Regions from separate parts of the Homo sapiens genome. Here region 1 is linked to region 2. The links come from fine-mapping of genetic effects on plasma protein levels. Region 2 holds a variant in brackets. A gene starts in the other region. All regions are shown on one strand. Distances are from middle to middle. Region 1 holds the start of EDA2R (ectodysplasin A2 receptor). Region 2 has its middle 11 kb from the start of SNORA11.

The links. A credible set is the group of variants that fine-mapping cannot tell apart. PIP is the chance, under the fine-mapping model, that this variant and not a neighbour inherited with it causes the effect. Protein levels are from antibody-based Olink assays in UK Biobank. Linkage for the fine-mapping came from a reference panel and not from the study's own genotypes, which makes the PIPs less certain.
Region 1: it holds the start of EDA2R, and the variant in region 2 is the best candidate, but not a certain one, in a credible set for the plasma level of the EDA2R protein (UK Biobank, PIP 0.72).

The regions. Positions count from the first base shown.
Region 1 is chrX:66,638,600-66,648,721 of GRCh38, reverse strand. EDA2R (ectodysplasin A2 receptor) reads left to right here and starts at 9,644. Exons shown (of 7, transcript NM_021783.5): 1 at 9,644-9,727. RefSeq lists an enhancer at 9,824-10,122.
Region 2 is chrX:54,820,030-54,830,152 of GRCh38, reverse strand. No RefSeq gene overlaps it. Among named protein-coding and RNA genes, the nearest start is that of SNORA11, 11 kb to the right of the region's middle. The variant C/T (reference allele first, on the strand shown) is at 5,121.

The sequences.
Region 1 (10,122 bases), 12 Mb before region 2:
CACATAGGCATAAAATAAAGGGATGGAGGAAGATCTACCAAGCAAATGGAAAACAAAAAAAAGGCAGGGGTTGTATTCCTAGTCTCTGATAAAACAGACTTTAAACCAACAAAGATCAGAAGAGACAAAGAAGGCCATTACACAATGGTAAAGGGATAAATTCAACAAGAAGAGCTAACTATCTTAAATATATATGCATCCAATACAGGAGCACCCAGATTCATAAAGCAAGCCCTTAGAGACCTACAAAGAGACTTAGACTCCTACACAATAATAATGGGAGACTTTAACACCCAAATTTAAACAAAAGACAGACCAACGAGACAGAAAGTTAACAAGGATATCCAGGAATTGAACTCAGCTCTGCACCAAGTGGACCTCATAGACATCTACAGAATTCTGCAACCCAAATCAACAGAATATACATTCTTCTCAGCACCACACCGCACTTATTCCAAAATTGACGGCATAGTTGGAAGTAAAGCACTCCTCAGCAAATGTAAAAGAACAGAAATTATAACCAACTGTCTCTCAGACCACAGTGCAATCAAACTAGAACTCAGGATTAAGAAACACACTCAAAGGCGCTCAACTACATGGAAACTGAACAACCTGCTCCTGAATGACTACTGGGTACATAACGAAATGAAGGCAGAAATAAAGATGTTCTTTGAAACCAACGAGAACAAAGACACAACGTACCAGAATCTCTGGGACACATTTAAAGCAGTTTGTAGAGGGAAATTTATACCACTAAATGCCCACAAGAGAAAGCAGAAAAGATCTAAAATTGACACCCTAACATCACAATTAAAAGAACTAGAGAAGCAAGAGGAAACACATTCAAAAGCTAGCAGAAGGCAAGAAATAACTAAGATCAGAGCAGAACTGAAGGAGATAGAGACACAAAAAAAGCTTCAAAGAAACCAATGAATCCAGGAGCTGGTTTTTTGAAAAGATCAACAAAATTAATAGACTGCTAGCAGGACTAAAAAAGAAGAAACGAGAAGAATCAAACAGATGTAATAAAAAGTGATAAAAGGGAGATCACCACCGATCCCACAGAAATACAAACTACCATCAGAGCATACTATAAATACCTGTACGCAAATAAACTATAAAATCTAGAAGAAATGCATAAATTCCTCAACACATACACCCTCCCAACACTAAACAAGGAAGAAGTTGAATCTCTGAATAGACCAATAACAGGTTCTTAATTGAGGCAATAATTGATAGCTTACCAACCAAAAAAAGTCCAGGACCAGATGGATTTACAGCCGAATTCTACCAGAGGTACAAAGAGGAGCTGGTACCATTCCTTCTGAAACTATTCCAATGAATAGAAAAAGAGGGAATCCTCCCTAACTCACTTTATGAGGCCAGCATCATCCTGATACCAAAGCCTGTCAGAGACAAAACCAAAAAAGAGAATTTTAGACCAATTTCCTTGATGAACATTGATGCAAAAATCCTCAATAAAATACTGGCAAACCAAATCCAACAACACATCAAAAAGCTTATCCACCATGGTCAAGTGGGCTTCATCCCTGGGATGCAAGGCTGGTTCAACATATGCAAATCAATAAACATAATCCAGCATATAAATAGAACCAACGACAAAAGCCACATGATTATCTCAATAGATGCAGAAAAGGCCTTTGACAAAATTCAACACCCCTTCATGCTAAAAACTCTCAATAAATTAGGTATTGATGGGATGTATCTCAAAATAATAAGAGCTATTTATGACAAACCCACAGCCAATATCATACTGAATAGGCAAAAACTGGAAGCATTCCCTTTGAAAATCAGCACAAGACAGGGATACCCTCTCTCACCACTCCTATTCAACATAGTGTTGGAAGTTCTGGCCAGGGCAATTAGGCAGGAGAAGGAAATAAAGGGTATTCAATTAGGAAAAGAGGAAGTCAAATTGTCCCTGTTTGCAGATGACATGATTGTATATCTAGAAAACCCCATTGTCTCAGCCCAAAATCTCCTTAAGCTGATAAGCAACTTCAGCAAAGTCTCAGGATACAAAATCAATGTGCAAAAATCACAAGCATTCTTATACACCAATAACAGACAAACAGAGAGCCAAATCATGAGTGAACTCCCATTCACAATTGCTTCAAAGAGAATAAAATACCTAGGAATCCAACTTACAAGGGATGTGAAGGACCTCTTCAAGGAGAACTACAAACCACTGCTCAACGAAATAAAAGAGGATACAAACACATGGAAGAACATTCCATGCTCATGGATAGAAAGAATCAATATCATGAAAATGGCCATACTGCCCAAGGTAATTCATAGATTCAATGCCATCCCCATCAAGCTACCAATGACTTTCTTCACAGAATTGGAAAAAACTACTTTAAAGTTCATATGGAACCAAAAAAGAGCCCACATTGCCAAGTCAATCCTAAGCCAAAGAAGAAAGCTGCAGGCATCATGCTACCTGACTTCAAACTGTACTACAAGGCTACAGTAACCAAAACAGCATGGTACTGGTACCAAAACAGAGATATAGACCAATGGAATAGAACAGAGCCCTCAGAAATAATACGACACATCTATAATTATCTGATCTTTGACAAACCTGATAAAAACAAGAAATGGGGAAAGGATTCCCTGTTTAATAAATGGTGCTGGGAAAACTGGCTAGCCATATGTGGAAAGCTGAAACTGGACCTCTTCCTTACACCTTATACAAAAATTAATTCAAGACGGATTAAAGACTTAAATGTTAAACCTAAAACCATAAAAACCCTAGAAGAAAACCTAGGCAATACCATTCAGGACATAGGCATGGACAAGGACTTCATGTCTAAAACACCAAAAGCAATGGCAACAAAAGCCAAATTTGACAAATGGGATATAATTAAACTAAAGAGCTTCTGCACAGCAAAAGCAACTTCCATCAGAGTGAACAGGCAACCTACAGAATGGGAGAAAATTTTTGCAATCTACTCATCTGACAAAGGCCTAATATCCAGAATCTACAATGAACTCAAACAAATTTACAAGAAAAATCAGACAACCCCATCAACAATGGGCGAAGGATATGAATAGACATTTCTGAAAAGAAGACATTTATGCAGCCAACAGAGGCATGAAAAAATGCTCATCATCACTGGCCATCAGAGAAATGCAAATCAAAACCACAATGAGATACCATCTCACACCAGTTAGAAGGGCGATCACTAAAAAGTTAGGAAACAACAGGTGCTGGAGAGGATGTGGAGAAATGGGGACACTTTTACACTGTTGGTGGGACTGTAAAGTAGTTCAACCATTGTGAAAGTCAGTGTGGCTATTCCTCCGGGATCTAGTACCAGAAATACCATTTGACCCAGCCATCCCATTACTGCATGTATACCCAAAGGTGCATAAATCATGCTGCTATAAAGACACATGCACACGTATGTTTATTGCAGCACTATTCACAGTAGCAAAGGCTTGGAACCAACCCAAATGTCCAACAATGATAGACTGGATTAAGAAAATGTGGCACATATACACCATGGAATACTATGCAGCCATAAAAAATGATGAGTTCATGTCCTTTGTAGGGACATGGATGAAGCTGGAAACCATCATTCTTAGCAAACTATCGCAAGGACAAAAAACCAAACACCACGTGTTCTCACTCATAGGTGGGAATTGAACAATGAGAACACTTGGACACGGGAAGGGGAACATCACACCCGGGGCCTGTTGTGGGGTGGGGGAAGGAGGGAGGGATAGCATTAGGAGATACACCTAATGTAAATGATGAGTTAATGGGTGCAGCACACCAACATGGCACATGTATACATATGTAACAAACCTGCATGTTGTGCACATGTACCCTGAAACTTAAAGTATAATAAAAAAAAGAAAAAAAAAGATGAGAGAAAATGTTTCCTAAAATTTGGCAGTTAAGTGGTCCCCTGTAGCTTTAGGGAGAACAAATGGGGCTAGAAGCCAGATTATAGTAGGTTGGGGAGCTAATGGAAATTAAAGTCATGGAAACAGTTATTAGAGAAAACTCTATCCAGAAATTTGGCTAAGAAAAAAAATGAGACGAGGCTGTTGTTTGAGAAAGAGGAAATGTGGTAGAAGGGTTGATTTTATTTTGTAGTGGGAGGAATTCAAATATGTTTACGAGTTAAAGGGGTAGGCACAGAAGACAGGTAAATAATGATGCCATAGAGAGTGGGGGTAATTGATGGAGAAAGATTCATAAATATCAGGGGAGGCATTCTCTCCTCTTCTTCAAGAGGAAAGGCCAAGATGAATGAAGACAGAGAGAACCTTATAGGAATTAGGGAAGAAGTTATAGGCACTAAATGCCTAATAGAATCTGTTTTATTGATGAAGAAGAAAAGAGTCAATGTTTCTGGGCTAAGAATTCAGTGCTAAAGTAGGAACTTAACCTTTACTTCTAAAGGTAGAGGTTTAGAATAGCTCTTCAGAGAGGATGGAAGGAGCCTCTGATTGGAAGGGAAAGCAAGGATTGTACATTTGAGTGTGACAGTGAATAATTAAGGCATCAGCTATTCTTGAGAATCCTGGGTCAATTGCCACTTATTGGTTGTGGCACTGATAGATGGCATAGATAAGTCACCTATCGTTTCTGTGCCTCAATTTTGTCATCTATAAAATAGGAGTGATGTCATGGTTTTTGCCTCATAGGATTATTGTGATGATTAAATGAGCTATTGCATACAGAACATTTGGCATAGGGCCTGACATATAGAGTTCATCAAGCATTGATCAAGTGTTGGCTATTATTATTATTTTGGGTGTGGGTTTCAATTCCTTTTTAGCCATCTTATTTTTATTGTGGCACACCTGAGGCCTGGGAGCTCATTATAGAAGGATACATTCAAATGTGAACATTTTTCTCCTTGGGCTTATTCAACAGATATATTGATATATATAATATGTAAAAATGTATTGAGCGCTTAAAATACTCTAGGTACAGTTTTGCATGTGGAAATTTGTGAAATGGTATATAAGGTCCCTGCCACATAGGTTCACACTCCAGTGAGAGAAGTTAGAATCAGGCCAGAGGGACAATGGAGGGTGGGAGGAACTCTGTAAAATCCCTGCACTTGAGGGGCAAGTGGAGAATGAGAATCCATAAAATGCTGTAGAGAAATAAGTGAAACTAGAAGACATTAGTTCCATGAAAGTCAAGGGAAGAGAGTCAGAAAGAAAAGAATCCAGACAATGTTGGATGTTTTAGATAATTCAAATAAGAAAACAGAAGAATCCATGGGTTTGATAGTATGAAAATCATGGGTGACCTTGAGAAGAGCAAAATGTAGTGAGTTTGGAAATGAAGAGGTGGAGGTGAGGATATGAAAAGAATTAATCTTAGTTCAGAATGGAAAGACAATTTAGGAGAAAGAGCCAGAGGAAGAAAGACCATGAAGATACAAATAAAGCAAAATGGAATAGACAGGAGTAAACACAGATGGAGACAGGAGGGACAGGAGGAAACTCTGAGGTAAGAAACAGGATGAACTTGAATGTGGAGATGTCAGAAGTTGTTTAGACTTCAAGTTTCGTGCCCTTTTACATTCTCGGTGAAACTGGAGGTGAAGTCATCTGCTAGGGGTTTGGGAGCTGTGTTGAGCACTTGACTTAAGAAGAGTGAGTTTTAAAAGCCATCTTGGGCAAGTGGAATAGAAGATTATTTAAAATGAGAGATAACACTATTGGACTGTGCTAGAATCTAGCTGAAGTTTGAAAATTCCCATGGCTAGAAGTAACTCTTATACCCCAGCTTTCTAATTCAGAAGACCTAAGCCTGTATACACCACTGCAGCAAACATTTATGGCCAAGTTTATCTACACACATCTCACAGGCTAAAGAGAACAAGAAGCTGATATTGTGTTCAGGGACATCCTTAGCAATGTTTGAGTTTACAGGGGTTGCCCCACAGGCCTCAGCATCCCCTTAGTCTTTCAGCTTCTTTTCCTGCCCCCTGGTCCCAGTCTTGAGAGGAGCTATAAGGGCCCCATTCTGCCTGGATAACCATGAAGCTCCTTCATGAAAGGTGGTCCTGCCATTGTTGGACACTAGAATTAGAGGCTACCCAGGATTCTCTGAGACACAGCCAAGGCCAGTATTCCCCTGAGTGACCCTAAGTAACCTCTGAGAGAGAGCTGAGGGGTGGCATCAGAGAGCCCTGAATCTCACTGAGCCCCAGAATCTGTCTGGTCCCAGAGATAAGCAGAGTGGAGGCTGGTCCTGCCTATCCTGCTGTCAGGTTAGGCTGGTTCCAGCAGTAGAATGTAGGTAGAGAAACTCTGTACTGATAGTTCTCAGTTTGGGTTCACAAAGTGACTCCTGTTTATCATAAAAGGAGGGGCTGTGGAAAGCCCCCAAGAAATTAGCTGATCCAAACTTAGTTCTGCTGCACAAGCACATGGAGCTAGAGTGGCTCCCCCACAGAGAGCAGAGTTGAGAGCCTTAACCCTACTCACCACCACACTGCACCGGGGGTCCTGGGGCTATGTTGAGAAAAAGCTCACCTACCCAGTGGATTTCAAAAGGCCTAGGCAATCCCATTAGCTTGTACTAGCTAGGGTATTCAAGAAAGTCCACTTTGATAAAGTGACATTTAAGCAGGGATATGGAGGAAGTGAGAAAAGGAGCCATGCTGATATCTGGGGGAAGAATTGGCTAGGCTGAAGGAGCAGCAAGTGCAAAGACCAGAGTCTTGAGCATGCTTTGAGTGTTGGAAAAAATATCAAGGCCGCCAGTTGGGGTTGGGTATGGTGGTCAAGGCGAGTGGTAAGAGGTGAGATCAGAGATAGAGGGGCAGGTTAGTGAGGATGGGATGGCGTGGGATAGATTGTAGACTATTATAGACCATAGTTAAGGATTTTGGGTTTTCTGCTGAATAAGAAGCCAACCAGTAGAATTGCTTGGACAGACTTAGACTGATGTACTTTTAAAAGGATCATTCTGGTTGCTCTGCTGAGAATTGACTGGAGTGGGGTAAGCATGAGAGCAAGGAGAGCTATTGGAGGATATGGCAATAATTCAGGTGAAAAGTAATCGTGGCTTGCACCAGAGTGGTTGCAGTGAAGGTGCTAAGAAGTTGGTGAAATTCAGAGTTTATCTCTGAGGCAGGAGGCAGAGCTGATAGGATGTGCTGATGGGTTGAATGTGAGGTGTGAGCAAAAGGAGAGGGGAGGATAATTCTAATGATTGTGGCTTCATAGATTATGAAGATAAAATGAATTAATTCATGAAAAAAATTTGAGCAGTGCCTGGCAAGTGCTTAGTGAGGGCCAGCTAACTGTTATAGTATTATTGGACAAGTTATGGTGGAGGACAGTGGTTTCATATTTGCTGCTTATAATCACTTTCCACAATAGCTTGTGGACTCTGACATATCCCTGGTACCTCTATCTCAAGTTTCCTCCTGTACTTCCAGGCAGAATCACAGAGTACAAGGAGCCTCTTCATCTACAAAATGAGGATGGTAACCTCAACCTCATAGAATGGTTGTAAGGTATAAAGGGACACATATGCATGATTTATAGGTGCTCAGTAAATGTTATTCTTGTCCACCTTCTAAACCTTTGCTACTAAAACTATGGTCTGTGGCCCAGCACCATCAATATCACCTGGAAGCAGTTAGAAAATCAGAGTCTTAGTCCCACACCACAGCTGCTAACTCAGAATCTGTGTTTTAACAAGATCCTTAGGTGATTTGTGTGCACATTAATATGAGAGAAGCACGGCTCTAGCGTTTCAAGGTCATCCAGTCCAACAGTCTCTTCAGGATACAGATGCAGAAAGGAAAACTAAGAGAGAGGAAGAGATTTACATGATGTTACACTTAGTTTTGTCAAGACATCTAAATTCCAAGCTAGGGTTCTTTACACTAAAGTTTCAAAACTGTCTGTAATTCAGCTTCTCTGGGTAGGAAAGGATGGAGAAAAAGAAGAGGTCCTGTTTTCTAGGAAAGGACAGAACAGAATTAGGAGGTACCCAGGGTAGCTATTTTCATTTGAATCTCACAGATGATTTCAGAGGTCCCTAAATTGCATTCATGTATTTATTTATATTTAATAAACACTTCTATACCACTACGTCCCAGAAATCATTCTAAGCTCCTTACGCATATGAACACTATTTTGTATATTAACTCATATAATACCTAAAACAATCCTATGAGTAAGGGATTGTTATTTTCCCCACTTTACAGAAGAGAATCCTGAGCCACAGAGTGGTTAAGTAACTTGCCTTAGGTCACAAAGCTAGTAAGGGGCAGACCTAGGATTCCAATTCTGGCAGTTTTCCCTTCTACTAGGCCTGAGCCCACAGTAGCCTATTCTGGTCTTAACTCTAGCTAGGGGACAGATATGAAGTTCATTTAGGACTTTTTCTACTTCAGCTTAGGGCCTATTCAGCCCTTTCCCACCAAAGGCTTTTCAGCTGCTTTACTGAGACTCCACCCTGAGCTGGCATATAGCCTCTGCCCAGTACAGGAGGGGTCCCTCAGAGACTGATAATGGCTCATTTCTTGGTCCTCTCCCCCATACCTTGGCTCAAGCTTTTCTTTTCCTCTACCCATTAGGCTATTTCCTCTTTGACCTCTTTTAAAAGCTCCTAATCTATTGAAAAGCATTTGCTTTCCTTGTCAGACTCTTTTTTACTCCTTCTTCCTACTGGCCCCCAAACCCTTCCAGTCTGCACCTCATAGTTTGGCCCTTAATTCTCTGTCTCTGTCCGGTCTACTTTATCTTCCCAGCTCTGCAAACTCTTCAAGGTCAGGGACTAGTAACGTTTCGGGATTTATCCACCGCTGCCTCTGAGATCATGGATTAATAAACTCCCAAAGTGTCATTGTTTGAAGTGCCCTTAGAGACTACGTAGCTCAACCCCCTCCTTGTACAGACACTCAGGGGCCCAGAGAAGATGGATGATCAAAGCTGAGTGCCGAATCCAATTTTCCTTTATTTTTAGTGGTCTTTTCCCTGCTTCATGTCTGCTCTCTTCCTCCTGTCACAATCCTATCTACCCTTCTGAATGGAGGAGTATTTTTTTGAGGCAGATGCAGAGCTGGAAAGCGGCTTCTCCATGTGTCTGAAAATTTTGGCTTTTCCAACAATAATTTTCCCTGTCAAACTCCAAGCCTGCTAAGTCATGAATAAACTTTGATGAGCTGAGCTGCATTCAGCTGTGAAAGAGACAACTTGATGCTTTCTCTGGACCCCACTCCCTGGCCCTCTACTCTCTGGCCCCCGCTTCAGTCCCAGGAGATTTGCAGCTCCTGCCATACCAGTGGCTGGGTCACTGTTCTTCAGCCTCACATTGTTCCTCTCAAAGGCAGTTTCTTTTCGTAGCCACGCCTAGGCACTCAAACAGTCCAATAGCTGCTCTAGGAACTTCACGGGGGCGGAAGAGGTAAGCTTACCGTGAAAGGAGGGTTTGGGCTGTTGTTGCTACACGTGGATGTGAAATGAGTCAAGCGGAACTTTGATTACAAGGAATTTCATATACTGTGAGTGTGTATGCAGGCTGGGGGCTGAGGGGCGGGGGCTGAGGGGCGGGGCTGATGGGCGGGTCTGAGGGGCGGGGGCTGAGGGGCGCGGGGTGAAGGGCGGGGGGTGACGGGAGGGGGCTGGGTGAGATGTGTGCTCTGCGCTGAGGTGGATTTGTACCGGAGTCCCATTTGGGAGCAAGAGCCATCTACTCGTCCGTTACCGGGTGAGTGTGGGAACACCCCCTGGTGTGGCAAGGCGGCTGGGACCTGCGGCATCTAGGTGCAGAAGTACAGAATCAGGTCAGGATGATCCTGCTAGGGTACCGCAAAATCAGAACAATTGGGAAGGCGCCCTGTGGCTGGCTGTCAGTCCATCCATTTGTGTCCGGAGAGCGCTTTCTGAGGTATCAGGGATCTGGGCTGACATCTCTAGGATCTTGGCGAGCCATTTCCTGTAGGCTCTTACTGGACCTGCATTGCCTCTGAGAACATGCCTGGACGTGTCCAACAACCTTGAGCATCTAGGGTTGGGAGATAAAGAAGAGAAGGAGGCTGGGTGTTAGTGAAGGCGGGGACAGTGGATCAGACTTGTGGAGCATCCTGAGGAAAGCAGAACTGC
Region 2 (10,123 bases):
TTTATTGATTTGCATATATTGAACCAGCCTTGCATCCCAGGGATGAAGCCCACTTGATCATGGTGGATAAGTTTTTTGATGTGCTGCTGGATTCGTTTTGCCAGTATTTTACTGAGGATTTTTGCATCAATGTTCATCAAGGATATTGGTCTAAAATTCTCTTTTTTGGTTGTGTCTCTGCCCAGCTTTGGTATCAGAATGATGCTGGCCTCATAAAATGAGTTAGGGAGGATTCCCTCTTTTTCTATTGATTGGAATAGTTTCAGAAGGAATGGTACCAGTTCCTCCTTGTACCTCTGGTAGAATTCGGCTGTGAATCCATCTGGTCCTGGACTCTTTTTGGTTGGTAAGCTATTGATTACTGCCACAATATCAGAGCCTGTTATTGGTCTATTCAGAGATTCAACTTCCTCCTGGTTTAGTCTGGGAGAGTGTATGTGTTGAGGAATTTATCCATTTCTTCTAGATTTTCTAGTTTATTTGCATAGAGGTGTTTGTAGTATTCTCTGATGGTAGTTTGTATTTCTGTGGGATCGGTGGTGATATCCCCTTTATCATTTTTTATTGCGTCTATTTGATTCTTCTCTCTTTTTTTCTTTATTAGTCTTGCTAGCGGTCTATCAATTTTGTTCATCCTTTCAAAAAACCAGCTCCTGGATTCATTAATTTTTTGAAGGGTTTTTTGTGTCTCTATTTCCTTCAGTTCTGCTCTGATTTTAGTTATTTCTTGCCTTCTGCTAGCTTTGGAATGTGTTTGCTCTTGCTTTTCTAGTTCTTTTAATTGTGATGTTAGGGTGTCAATTTTGGATCTTTCCTGCTTTCTCTTTAAAGTTCATATGGAACCAAAAAAGAGCCTGCATTGCCAATTCAATCCTAAGCCAAAAGAACAAAGCTGGAGGCATCACACTACCTGACTTCAAACTATACTACAAGGCTACAGTAACCAAAACAGCATGGTACTGGTACCAAAACAGAGATATAGATCAACGGAACAGAACAGAGCCCTCAGAAATAATGCCGCATATCTACAACTATCTGATCTTTGACAAACCTGAGAAAAACAAGCAATGGGGAAATGATTCCCTATTTAATAAATGGTGCTGGGAAAACTGGCTAGCCATATGTAGAAAGCTGAAACTGGATCCCTTCCTTACACCTTATACAAAAATCAATTCAAGATGGATTAAAGACTTAAACGTTAGACCTAAAACCATAAAAACCCCAGAAGAAAACCTAGGCATTACCATTCAGGACATAGGCATGGGCAAGGACTTCATGTCTAAAACACCAAAAGCAATGGCAACAAAAGACAAAATTGACAAATGGGATCTAATTAAACTAAAGAGCTTCTGCACAGCAAAAGAAACTACCATCAGACTGAACAGGCAACCTACAAAATAGGAGAAAATTTTTGCAACCTACTCATCTGACAAAGGGCTAATATCCAGAATCTGCAATGAACTCAAACAAATTTACAAGAAAAAAACAAACAACCCCATCAAAAAGTGGGCGAAGGACATGAACAGTCACTTCTCAAAAGAAGACATTTATGCAGCCAAAAAACACATGAAAAAATGCTCATCATCACTGGCCTTCAGAGAAATGCAAATCAAAGCCACAATGAGATACCATCTCACACCAGTTAGAATGGCAATCATTAAAAAGTCAGGAAACAACAGGTGCTGGAGAGGATGTGGAGAAATAGGAACACTTTTACACTGTTGGTGGGACTGGAAACTAGTTCAACCATCGTGGAAGTCAGTGTGGCGATTCCTCAGGGATCTAGAACTAGAAATACCATTTGACCCAGCCATCCCATTACTGGGTATATACCCAAAGGACTATAAATCATGCTGCTATAAAGACACATGCACACGTATGTTTATTGCGGCATTATTCACAATAGCAAAGACTTGGAACCAACCCGAATGTCCAACAATGATAGACTGGATTAAGAAAATGTGGCACATATACACCATGGAATACTATGCAGCCATAAAAAATGATGAGTTCATGTCCTTTGTAGGGACATGGATGAAATTGGAAATCATCATTCTCAGTAAACTATTGCAAGAACAAAAAACCAAACACCGCATATTCTCACTCATAGGTGGGAATTGAACAATGAGAACACATGGACACAGGAAGGGGAACATCACACTCTGGGGACTGTTGTGGGGTGGGGGGAGGGGAGAGGGATAGCATTGGGAGGTATGCCTAATGCTAGATGATGAGTTAGTGGGTGCAGCACACCAGCATGGCACATGTATACATATGTAACTAACCTGCACAATGTGCACATGTACCCTAAAACTTAAAGTATAATAAAAAATAAAATAAAATTTAAAAAAAAAAAGTCGTTTTCCCTGCAATCTGCTACAGTGAACTCTCCTTATTCTCCTACCACTTCTGTCTGCCCACTCCCTTCGCAGTGTTTCCCAGTATTTCTCAGGTCAAAGAAAATAATTATGCTGGTGCAGCTCAATGGAGTGAACTGCTGGGGACTGGGGCTCTGGGCAGGCTGTGCGCAGTTGATGGGGTGGCTGAAGGGATCCATAGCTGCTGGATTGGGCCACTCCACCTTAGCTGCTGCCTTGAAGGATCTTCCCTTCTGGCTCCACACATGCTCCCTAGGTGACCTCCCTCTGTCACTTGGTTTCCACCACAGAAGCCCTACCAGTCACTCTGAATCTCTTCTCCCATCTAGGGCTCCCACAATTGCCCCCTCACCAGTGGGTGCAGACTCACAGTTGGACATCTGCCCCGGAATGTTTCAAGAAGCCTCCAATGCATCCTGCCCAAACAATGAATTCGTTGTCCTGCCCCTACTTGGCCCTTTATGCCTTCGCAGTCAGGGGCACCATCATCCACATGGTCACTCTGGAGACAAATCTGAGTGTTGCCTTCAATCTTCAGGTGGCCCCCATTCCCTGCAGCCAATCAACTTCCAATTCTTATTGCTTTTCTCTGCTGGATGCTTCTCCAGGCCACCCTCCTCTTCATCCCTAACTGACCAAGCCCAAGCTTAGGCCTCATTTTTCTCAGTTTCCCTCTTCTACTGCGGCCTCTCCCATCCATGCTGCTCAGAGGCAGCCGCTGAGACCCTGTAAACATTACCTCACATGTCATTTTATCTCATGGCTCCCTGTTCAACTACAGGACAAATACCATATTCCTTGTGTTGCCCTGCAGGACTCTCCAGCCTTCTATGTGGCTCTTTGGGTTTTTCATCTCAAATCTCTGCTCCAGAACGCCAAGCTGTTTGCAATTCCCTACACATACTTGGTAAGTTTTTGCCTGTTTCTTTTCTCAGGCAGCCACTACATTGCTGGAATGCCTTTCCCTCCCACAGGCCCTCGCCTATGGCCCATTTTTATTAATTCCTTAACAGACAGGTCAGCCTTGGTCTCCCCCTGGGAACCTTCTGGAACTGCCTTTCCTCTTCATTATGGCTTCCATCCTACCTTGTGTGTCATGGAAAGGGCAATTCTACCCTAGTGCCAATATTGGGTTTCTGTGTCTCGCCCATAGACAATAGGTAGGCGGTGTGTGTGATACCCTTTGGGGTTCCCAACGTCAGCCAACACCAGGTATGACACAGATGAGGTGCTCAGTGAGCCCCAGCGGGGTGGATGATCTGATGATGTGCTGGGCTTTCAAAGAGGAGCACACTCAAATAGGAAGTGGGAGATGACCTGAGTGTTCCTGGCAGGGTGTCAGAGGGGGTCAGGGCTCACGGTGCTTGGGAGTTCCTGGTTGTACTAGTCAATGCTTAATCCCATGCCTCCATCCATCCGTATTTCAACTGCAGGCAGCTGTGGTGATGGTAAAGAATGAACCAGCAGAGGAATACCTCCATGAACTAAACACACCCACGAGACATAACACCAGGTTAAAGCCCCTGCTGCCACCTGCTGGCAAGGTACCCTTGGCTCCTATCCTGGCAGGAGAATAACTTTTACTCCCCCTACACAACAGACTGAGCCACACCTCTGTGCCTCTGCAATGCTGTTCCTTCTCACTGCATGCCTTTCCCTTCACCTTCTCGACCGACTTGCAGGTATATCCAATTCATTTTTCCCATGCTTACTTAAATTCCAACTCCTTTAGGATGACGGCCCTGAAACCCTCCTCCACTGGCACCACGACAGAACCCATGACACACTTAAACACAACACCTAGAACACTTGATGACTGTCAAGGCTCTGTGTATCTGGGTGCTTCAGGATGGGGTGATGGCAGAGGGAGATGAGTGGCTGTGTCTGACTCACTTCTGAGTTGTCAGAGTCAATGAGTACAAGACTGGCCTAGTCCACTTATTCATTCAACATGTGAATGAATGAATGAATGATGCATGAGAAGAGGTTTAACCATGGGACACTTTTAGTCCAGGGCAGACAAACGAATTGTTGGTGGACTGGAGTCATCAAGGAGGAGGTGTTTCGGCAGTGTTTCAGGAACACAAGGATGCTGAGCAGTGGAGCAAGGAGGAAGAAGTCATTCTCAGGGCAGTGGCCACCATGAGCAAATGCTCACACAGATGAGAGGCAGGCTCGGGTGTTTTGGAGAAAAGTGTGGTGTGGTGTGGTGTGGTTTGGGGCAGCTGGAGGGTGGTTTGTGTGCTGGGGTTGAGAGTTCTGTGGCGGGAGAGGCAGAGTGGAACCAGATGTCTCAGGCTGCCCCGCCATCCTTGTGCTCAAGCCAGGGCCCTGGGATCAGTGCTCTGTCCTTTCCCATCTGGGAGAGTGTGGGACCTCTGCTCTTTCTTCATGAATGTGGAAACTCAGAATTGAAGGGCTCCCTGTTTAGGCAGATGGCTCCACTGAAGCAATAAGGATTGTTAAAAGCCGAGAGAGAGCAAGGAAGCCCAAGAGAACACAGGAGAGTATAGGAGCTATAGAATGCATGAGAGCCCATGAACATGAGTGCCCAATTAGTGGCCAAGGGTTTACTTTGCAGAAGGACTGTTTTCGAGCAGGCTATGACTTGATTCAGTTAGGGATGGGTCCTTTGGGCACTTGATTCACTGGAGACAGTTCCAGGTCTCCAACCCTTTGGGGGATTCGATGTGCCTCCCAAGGTTGAAGCCATGTGTCTTTTCACATCAGCCTATCCTTGTT[C/T]GCTAGCTCTCACTTATCCCTAGGGAAACTGGAGTGACCAGCTGGAGAGACCCGAGCAGTGTGCTCAGGCCTGTCTGACTCCAGAGCCCATCCTCTCTCCTCTTCCCCAGGCCCCCTCACCTGCACGGCTCTAATGATGTCCTCCATGACCACATCGTACTGAACCGGGAAGTCAGCCATGATGCCTGAGCCAACTGGTCTTGCAATGTCGGGCAGTAGGTGGTGTGGTGTGGGGCTGCTGAGGGGTGGTTTGTGTGCTGGGGTTGAGAGTCCTATAGCAGGAGATGCACGATGGGACCAGATGTCTCAGGCTGCCCTCTCGATCCTGGTGGATGGGGGCAAATCAGCCTCACCTGTATGAGTGGGTACGATTGGGATGGGGTGGTACAGAGGGCTCACAAGACAGAAGAACCACAGAAAGGGCAGCACAAGGGGTGCTATCTGGGGAGGGTGAGAAGTCTAACCCCTCCCCAAACCTCCGGTGACTCCTGCCTACAACACCCTTCCACCTGCCCCACGCTCCTCTCCCAGTCCCACAGCCAGCTCCTCTCTGCATCCTCCATTGAGCCCAGCCGGACAGACCCAGCTTGGCCCTCAGCTCCCAGGCCCTAGCAGTGTGACGCTCACTGGCAACCTCACCCTACCTCATTGCCCATGCAACCTGGGGCCCAGTCTTTGGAGGCATGGCAAGTCTGGAGGTACACCAGCAGCCTGCGTCTCCTCCCAGAGAGGCAGTGCAGTCAGTGTGTGTCCAGGAGACAGACAGACACACAGACAAGGTCTAGGTCTCCTCCCATCCCCCCACTGCTGTGGAAACAGCAGCCTAGCAAGGTTATCCTCTGGATCGGATTTCATATTTCTTCTTCCCTCTCTGCCTTCTGACTCTGGGCATCATGTGTGTGAACAAGCCTTTTAGAGTCTCATGAAATCACAGATGACTCTCTAGTCCCGGATGTTTGCTGAGCTGGCCACAAGATCAACTCCTCTGGAATCCAAGACAAATGTCCATTTAGAAATGTCACTGTGCCTCCTTTTTTTCCAGAAAATGGAAACTTGGGAATTCTGCTCCCCCTTCTTCCTGCCACAGCTGTCAGGAAGCTCAGGGACACACTGAGCCCCATACTCTCTGAGGCGCCTGCTCACATACATTCCCTTGGCTTCCTTCCTCTCAGAGCTCTTTGTTCTGTTTTCTCCCCCACAGGATTGGTCCTACCCTCTGTTTTAACCTTTAAGGAGAATGGGGGAGGGACCTGCCATTTTTAGCTTAGGGCTGAAGAGTGCAGGCTGCAGGGACTCAGATGGCCTGTGGGCCCAGGTCCCCGCTGCTGCTGTGTGTCCCTGGACAAGAGACTCATTCTCTCTAAGCCTCTGGCTCCTCATCTACAGCACAGGCATGACCACAGCTCCTACTTCATAGGCAGTGCTTGTGGGAAATAAATGAGGCCATTCATGTAAAGCGTTTGGAGCCATACCTGCATCTCAGTGAGTGCCACCTAATGCTAATGAGTAGAATGATCGTGCAATCTTCTCTGCACCATGTAGTTGGGAGGGAGGAATTCTCTCAAAGTCTCACAGTGGTCCTGAGCTGTAGATGGCATCTCGTCCATTTTACAGATGGGAAAAGTGAAGTCGAGCAATGGAGTGACTGGCTTTGATCGTCCCACATTAGGGGAGTGTCAGCACTGGGATTTGGATCCAGTCTGTGTGTCTGTCTGTGTCTGTTACATCCACTGTCCACCCCAGTGCCTCTCTGGGTCAACAGAGTCGAATGAGTTGGGACCTCCAATGCTAAACAGCTTTGGAGGGGCTGCCACATGAGCCAGGGATTTCTCTGCACCTGTCCTCTCATCTCTCAGATGAGGTGAGCAGGCCAGCTCCGTGATTCTCCAACCTGGCTGGATGTCAATGTCCCCTGAGACTGGTTGATGACACAGCTTCCTGGGCCCCACCCCCATGCTACTGAACCAGACCCTGAAGGCTGGGCTCCAGGAATCTGCATTTCTAGGAGCCCATGTTGTGATTCTGAGGTAGCCAGTCTGGCCTTCCAAAACCTCTAGGTGAGATTTGAAGCAAGTCTGTGAGGCAGGATGCTCCTCTTCCCTCCAGGGTGTGAGACGGTGTCCTCCAAAGAGCCTGCACTTGCTGCACTCACTGACCTGCCATTCTCAGTGGGGATCCAGGGAAAAGCACGATTTGGCCAGTGTGGATTCTACAACCTCAGCAAAATAAACAAGGAAAGTTTCACACAAAAATTCCTCATTCACACTTGTTTTCTCATTCATTCATGCATTTACTTTCACCCACTCTTTCCTTCGCTCACATTTATTCATTCCTTTTTACACTCACATTCACTCTCTGTGTCAGGCAGAATGCTGTCCCAAAACACATGGCAAACTCCGTGGGCAAACTGATGGTAAACTCATGAGGACATAATTTACAGAGGTAGGTGGCATTAGAGGACCCACAAGGGATGGGCAGAGATGGGGGAACTGAATCTGCCAAAAGCCATTACCACCTCAAGCCCTGAAGGGTCAAGGTGCAATGGCAGTTAAAAGAAAGTGACAAGAGTCACAGCCACGGAAGAAGAGCGGCCCATGGGAACTGATGGCCCGAGTTAGGGGAGCCTCGTGACAGCTAAAGCACAACCCAGCAGATAGGGAGGCATAGGGATAAATACCCTAAAGCTCTCGTTGTGACCTCCGCGCATCGGGTGCCATTGTCTCTCACTTGCAGGACAAGGAGCCCAGATGATACAATCAGCAACGGTCAGTCTCCTGAAGCACAGAGCGGGACAGGCATAGATGGGGAGTGGATTTAGAAGGGCAAGTGGGGAGTAATGAAGAGAGCCCCCACCATTAGCCCCTGAGCAGCCCTTGCTCCTGCTTGGGTCTGGCCCAGCCACCTGTCCCACCTCAAGATCTTCATCGTGGGCACACGCTACATGGTAACTGAGTGCAAGAGCACATCCAGCCGCACAGAATACTACCTCATGAATATCCCATCACGCCCCACTCTATCTACCTATGCCAGCGTGGTGGGAGCAAACTCAACCTCAGAGGCCACATTGGAGGCGACTCTTGACTCTCAGCTTGCGGCCAGCAGGTAGGGAGGGCCACACACACAGATGGGTTGGCTGGGCTGTCCCAGGTGGGCTAGGGGTGTAGGGGTAGCCACTGCCTGGGTCCTGAGGTGGGAGACAGATTCTGTCACTCTTGCTCTTCCACCCGTCAGCCACTCAATCTTGCCCCAGCCACCAAATGACTCCCAATGCCACCTGCTCTGCAGGTCTAAGAGCTTGGCCCCGGCACCCAAGCCCTACCCAAAGCCAGCTGCTTCATGACAGTGACCCCCTTGACTCTGCCTGACTGGTCCCCTCATCTTTCTCATGACTCCATGCCTTTGCTGGTGCACCTCCCCCACCTAGACGGCCCTCCTCTGTCCCCTCTGTCAGCAGGTGACCATCACTGGTCACACAGACCGCTGCCCTGAGACACCCACCCTTGAACCACTCTTCTCCCCTCCTCACCCCAACATAGGTGTCACACTGGCAGCCCTGTCCCCACCCATGACTGTGTCCTTCTTGCCCTCCCCACTCCCTTCCAAGGCCCAACACTGGCTCCATGGTGTGGTCCAGGAAGCCCTCTTCATCTTCTCCTCCCTCCCAGGCAGGTTGCTGTGCCCTGGGCTTCAGTTCTCCCAGTTCTGGCCCATGTGTGGCTTTCCTGGCCCGAGTCTCTTCTCCCCAGCCCAGGACAGTGATCTGCACATTCTGGGTGCTGGCTGAATAAAGGGATCCATTTCCACAGCATTTACCCCTGCACCTGGGCTTCTTAGCACAGGTATTGTTCCTTCTGGCAGGACTGGTTGGGGGTGGGACAAGTGGGAAAATTAGTGCAGGAAGGACAGTTGTTGTCACAATTGTCATTTATTGGACACCTATGCACAATCATGGTGCCATCTGCTTCCGCATATGTGGCTCATTTCATCTTCACCACGAGTCTATGGGATGGGCATTCCTGCCACTGGTTTATGGATGAGGAAGCAGAGTGGCCCCAGGGCAGGCAGCTAGGATGAGACAGAGCCAGGACTGAAAGCTGGCCTACCCGCCTGCCCTCAGCTCCCCCATTGGAGAGGTGGGGGTGCCCCAGGCAAGTCGCTGCCCTGATGGATGGCTGCGTCCTCGTGGCTCCCTTTCTGTTATCTCTAGACTGACAGCCTCCCCTCAAGGTAGACTCTGACCTGTTACTCCCCCATGGCCCACTCCTCAGAGCAGAGTCAGAGGCCGCAGGAAGTGTGACCCTGGCCCATGGCAGCCCCTGCAGCCAGGGCCATCTTGGCTGGAGCCAGCCTGGCCTTGCCAACACAGCTTGGAGCCCAGCTAGACACGTGGCCGTCTCCACAGGGCATGCCTCCCTGCACACAACCCTGTGTGTGCATGCACACAACCGGCACCACCTTCATGTTCATCACAGAGCACCAGGCCCAGTTTACAAAGCACCTCCCCGTCGAGGTAACTCTCACTTGCGCAGCACCCCCCATGTACCAGGCCACGGTCCGGGTGCTCCCCACCCACTATCTAAAGTGCGGCCCCCAGAGAGCAGGCCGGGTGAGCCAATGCTCTTTGGATATGAGGCCAGAGAGGGGCAGGGACGTGTCCGAGGGCACAAGGGACCATGTAAGGGAGCTGGGGGAGTTTACCCTACGGCTCCTTCCTCCCAGTCAAGGGCTCCTTCCACGAGAGCACGCTGACTGCTGACTCATGTCCATAATGAAATGTATGTATGAAACGCCTATAGCCGCATATAGAAATGTGTGCCTGGACCTATGCACCTGTGCAGATGTTCCTAACACATGCCATCAGCGGTTAACAACACGCCTATACACAGAGGAGGAAATCACTAGCTCCTCTGGGCTCCCACAGCCCTTTATGGTTCCCCTCGGTGCTGCCAGTGTTTCCCTCACCGGATTGGCCGTCTTGAGAACAGGAACACCCCAGCACCCAG